Linked DNA regions of Homo sapiens. The protein of the gene in region 1 interacts with the protein of each later gene in a pairwise test. Each region holds a gene or a part of one and is shown on either strand. Other genes may lie near its edges.

What was found.
Region 2: the proteins of OPLAH (region 1) and ZNF451 interact in a two-hybrid assay, tested with the Homo sapiens proteins (one large-scale study listed by BioGRID).

What each region holds. Positions count from the first base shown.
Region 1 is NC_000008.11:144,050,752-144,054,527, reverse strand, and holds the end of OPLAH (5-oxoprolinase), read left to right. Parts: intron 1-1,134; coding exon 1,135-1,319; intron 1,320-1,398; coding exon 1,399-1,545; intron 1,546-1,627; coding exon 1,628-1,762; intron 1,763-1,929; coding exon 1,930-2,079; intron 2,080-2,201; coding exon 2,202-2,359; intron 2,360-2,451; coding exon 2,452-2,612; intron 2,613-2,701; coding exon 2,702-2,799; intron 2,800-3,055; coding exon 3,056-3,202; 3' UTR 3,203-3,262; downstream 3,263-3,776. UniProt on the Homo sapiens protein: Catalyzes the cleavage of 5-oxo-L-proline to form L-glutamate coupled to the hydrolysis of ATP to ADP and inorganic phosphate.
Region 2 is NC_000006.12:57,145,672-57,149,483, forward strand, and holds part of ZNF451 (E3 SUMO-protein ligase ZNF451), read left to right. Parts: intron 1-1,418; coding exon 1,419-3,022; intron 3,023-3,812. UniProt on the Homo sapiens protein: E3 SUMO-protein ligase; has a preference for SUMO2 and SUMO3 and facilitates UBE2I/UBC9-mediated sumoylation of target proteins. Plays a role in protein SUMO2 modification in response to stress caused by DNA damage and by proteasome inhibitors (in vitro).

The DNA.
Region 1 (3,776 bases):
AGGCTGGGACACATGGCCACTGCTGGCAAGCAGGCCTGGCTGGACCGTGGGATGCAGCCCATAGGCCCAGGCCTGCCTTGAGGCTGGGAGGAGATAGGTGGTTACCCCAAAGGGCAGCTGCAGATCGGATCCCGGGAGCTGAGATGAATTCAGCCTGGGCCCAGGAAGGCCTCCCGAGGGGTGGTTTTGCGGGTGGAGAGTTAGCCAAGACGTGGAGGGTCAGGGTGCTGGAGAGAGAAGCCTGTTTCAAGGTGGGTGGCTGCTTGTGGTGTGTGCAGTCATACTGGGTGGGGTCCGCAGAGAAACAGCAGGGCAGGGGCAGGGCCCAAAGGCCCCTGTAGAGTTTTCTGGGCCTAGGTCTGAGTCACTGGGTGGTGGGTGGCCGTGAAGGGCTTTCAGCTGGGCCTGCGCTGAGCTCCCACTGTGCCCACGTGCAGAGAGGATTCGGGGTCTTGAGAGTGGCCTGGAGGCTGGGGGGCAAGGTGGGGGGAAGCTGCAGTTGCCCTGGATGATGCTGATGTCTTGGGCTGAGTGGAGAGCGAGGGCGGGGGGTGGGGGACAGTTTTAGAGGTGGAGGTGGGTATTTGGAGGGATTTGGGAGAGGGGGCCAGGGGTCAAGTTTGGGCAGCTGGAGGTGGAGGGCCTGGCACTGAGCAGCTGCAGGGAAGGGGGGATGGAGGCTGCAGGGGTGCCTGTGGTGGGGGTGGGGGTAGGAGAGACAGGGAAAAACAGCCCTGGTCTGAGGCTGCAGGTCTGGGAGCCCAGGGGAAGTGGCGTGGCCAGGGTGGAGGGTGGTGGCAGAGGGTGGGTGTAATGGAACCACAGGCTGTTCTGGGTGTTGAGGACACAGATAGGGTGGCCCATTGCTGGCTGCTCCCTTGGTCAATGTGAGCTGGGGCAGGGGTTGTGGACCACAGAGGGACATGCACAGGCACACTGCAGAGGGCCTTGTGGCTGCCTCAGAGGGGACCCTGAGCCAGGCTCAAGGAGAGGGGCTTTCCTGAGGTGCTGAGCAGTCCCAGGCCAGGCCTCGGTGCTTTCTAGGGGCCAGAGACCTTGTCTGGATCTGGGAAACCTGGGTTGGGGGTGCAGACAGGGTTGGCCAGGGGCTCAGTGATGACACTGTCCATCCAGCGGTGACGGAGGCCCTGCGGGCGCCAGGCAAGGTCCCCAACTGCAGCGGAACCAGAAACCTGCACGACAACCTGTCGGACCTCCGTGCCCAGGTGGCAGCCAACCAGAAGGGCATCCAGCTGGTGGGGGAGCTCATTGGGCAGTACGGCCTGGACGTGGTGCAGGCCTACATGGGCCATATTCAGGTGGGCCTGGGCACAGGAGTGTGGGCGGCAGGGCCATCCTGCAGGTGACCTGGCCACCACTGATCCTGCTCCCTGCCAGGCAAACGCTGAGCTGGCCGTGCGAGACATGTTGCGTGCCTTTGGAACCTCCCGGCAGGCCCGGGGCCTGCCCCTGGAGGTGTCCTCGGAAGACCACATGGACGACGGTTCCCCCATCCGCCTCCGTGTGCAGATCAGCCTGAGTCAGGTGGGCCGTGGGGAGAGTGCCTCTAGGCGGCAGGGGCACGGTGCGGCCGCTGACAGCCTCTCCCTTCCCTCGGGGCGCGCAGGGCAGCGCCGTGTTTGACTTCAGCGGCACTGGGCCGGAGGTGTTTGGTAATCTCAACGCACCGCGGGCCGTAACCCTGTCCGCCCTCATCTACTGCCTGCGCTGTCTGGTGGGCCGCGACATCCCACTCAACCAGGTTCGCAGGGGTGTGTGCGCGAGGGGGGGCCCCAGCCCGAGGTCACCCTGAGTGCGCCTCCTGGGCCCAGCCACGGTCTGACCCCACGGGTGCTGGGGCGGGGGGTGGGGTGCTGTTTCTCCCGGAGCCCACCCCAAGAGCTCCTGAGAGCCGCCCGCCCCGCACAGGGCTGCCTGGCGCCAGTGCGCGTGGTCATTCCCCGAGGCTCCATCCTGGACCCGTCGCCCGAGGCGGCGGTGGTGGGCGGCAACGTGCTCACGTCGCAGCGCGTGGTGGATGTCATCCTGGGGGCCTTTGGGGCCTGCGCCGCCTCCCAGGTGCGGGGGCGGGGTGGGCGCAGCTCGGGGGCGGACTGGGTGGGCAGGCTGGAGTAGGAGCGGGAGGGCGAGGTGGGGACGCCCTGCCCCAGCCCAGCGCAGCGACCAGGTGCCCTCACCAGGGCTGCATGAACAACGTGACCCTGGGCAACGCCCACATGGGCTACTACGAGACGGTGGCGGGCGGCGCGGGCGCGGGTCCCAGCTGGCACGGGCGCAGCGGTGTGCACAGCCACATGACCAACACACGCATCACCGACCCTGAGATCCTGGAGAGCCGGTGAGCGGCGTGCGCGGAGGCTGGGGGCACGGCCGGGTGGGAGCCGGGGCTCGGGCCACGCTGAGTCTTTGCCCTCGTCCTCGCCCTCGCAGGTACCCGGTCATCCTGCGCCGCTTCGAGCTGCGGCGGGGCTCGGGGGGCAGAGGCCGCTTCCGAGGCGGCGACGGCGTCACCCGCGAGCTGCTCTTTCGTGAGGAGGCGCTGCTGTCAGTGCTGACCGAGCGCCGCGCCTTCCGGCCATACGGGCTCCACGGTGCGCGGTTCCCCAGCCCTCGCGGCCCTCCCCGCCCCCGCCCCCACCCCCGCCCCTGGTCTCTCTGGACTCCTCGCCTCCCTCCGCAGGGGGCGAGCCTGGCGCCCGCGGCCTAAACCTGCTGATCCGCAAAAACGGCCGGACGGTGAATCTGGGCGGCAAGACGTCGGTGACCGTGTACCCCGGGGTAAGGGCCGCGGCCTGTCCTGTCCCCCTCCCCTCCCCTCCCCTCCCGGCCCCATCCCACAGAGGGGGAACAGTTGCAGACCTGACCAGAGGCCGAGTTTAATTTGGCCCCGGAAGGAAAGGGGGCGCGTACCGGGCCTCCGTGGTCCATGGGGGCGGGTGATGGACGCTGCCCGGTGGGGAGGGGACTGCGCAGGTGACAGGGAGGGGCCACGCCTGCACTGAGCCCGCCTCCCCGCCCCCCCCCGCGCCAACAGGATGTGTTCTGTCTCCACACGCCCGGCGGCGGTGGCTATGGGGACCCGGAGGACCCCGCCCCACCGCCGGGGTCGCCCCCGCAAGCACTGGCCTTTCCCGAGCACGGCAGCGTCTATGAGTATCGCCGGGCCCAGGAGGCCGTGTGAGGATCCCGCAATAAAGATGCCTTAAGTCTCCCGGTTCTGGGGACGCAGCTACGGCGCCTAGTTCGTGCTCCGAGTCGTGTCTGTGCGCGCCAGCCGCGCGCCCCTCATCTGTGCTTGCCTTAGGAGGACACTGAGACTCGGAGCTGCAGGCGCACTGCCCGGTGGTCCGTGAGCCCCTCCAGGGCGGTACTGAACGTCACCTGCTCCACCTCCTGGGGGCGGGAGTCAGGTTGAGGGTCGTCCCAGTGCCGCAGGCCCAGCCACCCGGGAACTCCGCGGTACGTGATGTAGTCCAGGCGCCGACCTCTCCAGGGCTTAGCTCGGCGGCTTCTGCCGGGAAGGCCGGCCAGGTAGAGGTGGCGCCCTTTCTCCTGCTCCAGGGCCCTGGTAGGGGGGCGGTGTCATCAAGGCCAGGGCCCCTCCGCGCGCTTCGGGCGGGCAGTGCCTACATCCAGGTCGCAACTCACCGCCTCGGCATCTTGGGGGAGGAGGCCATGGACTGGTGGAGCACGGAGGTGCTCAGCGCGGTCCCTGGGGGATCCGGGGGAGGGCGGCATCAGCCAGAGCCTCAGCC
Region 2 (3,812 bases), on another chromosome or scaffold:
ACCATATTTTCTTTATTCAATAATCCATTGATGGACACTTAGGTTGATTCCATTCATTATCGCTATTGTCAATAGTGCTGCGGTAAATGTACAAGTGTAGGTGTCTTTTTGATATAATGCTTACTTTTTCTTAAGGTAGATACCAGTAGTGGGACTGCTGGATCAAAGGGCGGTTCTATTTTTAGTTTTTTAAGAAAGCTCCATATTGTTTTCCATAGAGGTTGTACTAATTTACATTTCCATCAACAGTGTATAAGTGTTCCCTTTTCTCTGTATCCTTGCCAACATCAGTTGTTTTTTGACTTTTTAATAACAGCCATTTTGACTGGTGTAAGATGGTATCGCATTGTTTTAATTTGAAGTTCTCTGATGATTAGTAATGTTGAGTATTTATGGGCCAGTTGTATGTCTTCTTTTGAAAAATGTCTGTTCATGTCCTTTGCCCACTTCTTAATGGGATTATTTGTGGATTTTTTTCTTGTTAAGTTCCTAGTAGATTCTGAATATTAGTCCTTTGTCAGATGCATAGTTTGCAGATATTTTCTCCCATTCTGTAAGTTGTCTGTTTATTCTCTTGATTATTTCTTTTGCTATGCTTAAGCTTTTAAGTCCCATTTGTCTATTTTAGGGCTTTGTTGCATTTGCTTTTGAGGACTTAGTCATAAATTTTTTGCCTAGGCCATTGTCCGGAAGGGGTTTTCCTAGGTTTTCTTCTAGAATTTTTATAGTTTCAGGTCTTAGCCTTTAATCCATCTTGAGTTATTTTTTGTATATGATGAAAGATATGGGTTCAGTTTTATTCTTCTGCATATGGCTGTCAAGTTTTATCAGCACCATTTATTAAATAGGGTGTCCTTTCCCCAGTGTCTATTTTTGTCAATTTCATCAAAGATCAGTAGTTTGTAGGTATGTGGCTTTATTGCTGGGTTCTCTATTCTGTTCCATTGATCTGTGTGTCTGTTTTTATACCAGTACATGTTGTTTTGGTTACCATAGCCTTATAGTATCAACATTAATCAGTTATTAAAGAATAGGAACTGGGTTGTCTAGAATCTTAACCATAGTGTTCTTACATACAGTTTAATTACCATGGAGAGTCTAATAATTTGCCTGTTCAATAAGGTCCTCTGTCAGTGCTTTTGATACAGATTTTAGTTTTCTAAAATTTGCCTGAATTTAAAAAATTTTGAATCTAGTTTTAGCCTTTTGTATTTTAACTAGAAATAGATAAAGTGCAGATAATACTCAAGTATTTTGAGATGATAGAACATCATTATGTCATTTGCATCTTTATTGAAAAGTATCTTTTAGTGCTTATTTATACGTTGGTTATTTTATAATTCCTGCAATAAAATGCAGCAATGGTATATTTAGAAAATACTTCTGAAAGACTTTCTATTTCTTTTTATCTAATTTAGAGTTCATTGTCGAAATGCTGGACCTGTAGCTGTAGCTGAGAAGAGCATTACCCAGGTTGCAGAGAAATTCATATTAAGAGGTTATTGTCCAGATTGCAATCAAGTCTTTGTGGATGAAACCAGCACCCAAAATCATAAGCAGAATTCAGGACACAAAGTCCGAGTCATTAACTCAGTGGAAGAATCAGTCTTACTCTATTGCCACAGCAGCGAAGGGAACAAGGATCCTTCTTCTGACTTGCATTTATTGTTGGATCAATCAAAATTTTCATCACTTAAAAGAACCATGTCTATTAAAGAATCTAGCTCACTGGAGTGCATTGCCATTCCAAAAAAGAAGATGAATTTAAAAGATAAAAGCCATGAAGGTGTTGCTTGTGTCCAGAAAGAAAAATCAGTAGTTAAAACCTGGTTCTGTGAATGCAATCAGCGATTCCCAAGTGAAGATGCAGTAGAAAAGCATGTTTTCTCAGCAAACACAATGGGTTATAAATGTGTGGTCTGTGGAAAGGTATGTGATGATTCAGGGGTCATTCGTTTACACATGAGCCGGATTCACGGAGGGGCACATTTAAATAACTTTCTTTTCTGGTGTCGGACATGCAAAAAGGAGTTAACAAGGAAAGATACTATCATGGCACATGTGACTGAATTTCATAATGGACACAGATATTTTTATGAGATGGATGAGGTAGAAGGTGAAACTTTGCCATCATCCTCTACAACATTGGATAATTTGACTGCTAACAAGCCTTCATCAGCTATTACTGTTATTGATCATTCCCCGGCAAATAGTTCTCCGAGGGGTAAATGGCAATGCCGGATTTGTGAAGATATGTTTGATTCCCAGGAATATGTAAAACAGCACTGCATGTCTTTGGCAAGCCACAAGTTTCATAGATACAGCTGTGCTCACTGCAGAAAGCCTTTTCATAAGATAGAAACATTGTACCGACATTGCCAAGATGAGCATGACAATGAGATAAAGATTAAATACTTCTGTGGGCTTTGTGATCTTATCTTTAATGTGGAAGAAGCATTTCTGAGTCATTATGAGGAGCACCACAGCATAGATTATGTATTTGTGTCAGAAAAAACTGAAACTTCAATTAAAACCGAAGATGATTTTCCAGTAATAGAGACCAGTAACCAGTTAACTTGTGGTTGCCGTGAGAGTTACATCTGTAAAGTCAACAGAAAAGAAGATTATAGCAGATGTCTCCAAATCATGCTGGATAAAGGAAAACTGTGGTTTCGCTGCAGTTTATGTTCGGCAACAGCACAGAATTTAACCGACATGAACACTCATATCCATCAAGTGCACAAAGAAAAGAGTGATGAGGAGGAGCAGCAGTATGTAATCAAGTGTGGCACCTGCACCAAAGCATTTCATGATCCTGAGAGTGCACAGCAGCATTTCCATAGAAAACATTGCTTCTTACAGAAACCCAGTGTGGCTCATTTTGGATCTGAAAAATCAAACCTGTACAAGTTTACTGCTAGTGCCTCACATACAGAGAGAAAACTGAAACAGGCAATAAACTATTCAAAAAGTTTAGACATGGAGAAAGGAGTTGAGAATGACCTAAGCTATCAGAATATAGGTATGGCTTTATAGCTCTATGCAAATTTCATATACTGATATTGAAACTTACAATGTACCCACCTCGATTCAATTTTGAAGCAAGAAACAGGGTAACTTCTTGATGGTATGTTAATTATTATGGTATATACATTTTAGGGGTTTGTATTCCTACTACTACATTTATCCACTTTCTAAACTTACGAGGACAGAGTATATGTTGGCTTTAAATAATATATATTTTAGATATCATTTTATTTTACAAAAGGTGTGGAGATTTTGAAGATGAAGGAAGTTGATAGTTTTTCTGAAAGTTAGATTTCAAAGTTATCCTAGTATTAATATCATTTAGATTTTTCTTGTAATATTTGGGTTAACTAAAAAGATAAATCACGTGAATTCTTTTTGTTTCTATTTGGCCATATTCTTTAGTGTGAGACATTTTAAAGGTCATTTCAGCATTTGTATATTTTTGTTATGATTAACTTGGAAGAAAAGCTTTAACATACAATTAAAATAGCAATTAGAAGTAGAGTTAAAGTGGTAGCAGGAAACCAGGGGGAAAATTGAAATATGAATTCCTTGTTTGTACTTACTCCAGACTTTCTTTCTTCCATATGATAGGATTAAGTAAGTCTAGGCAGGTGTTATGTTTTTATTTTGTTTAGAAGTATAATTTGTTTTGTTTAGAAGTATAATTTGTTTTTGTTTAGAGTATAATTTTAAGTGTATCTTCTTTTATTTGTAAAATTTTTTTGAGATGGGATTTTACTATGTTGCCCAGGCTGGTTTTGAACTCCTGGCCTTAAGCA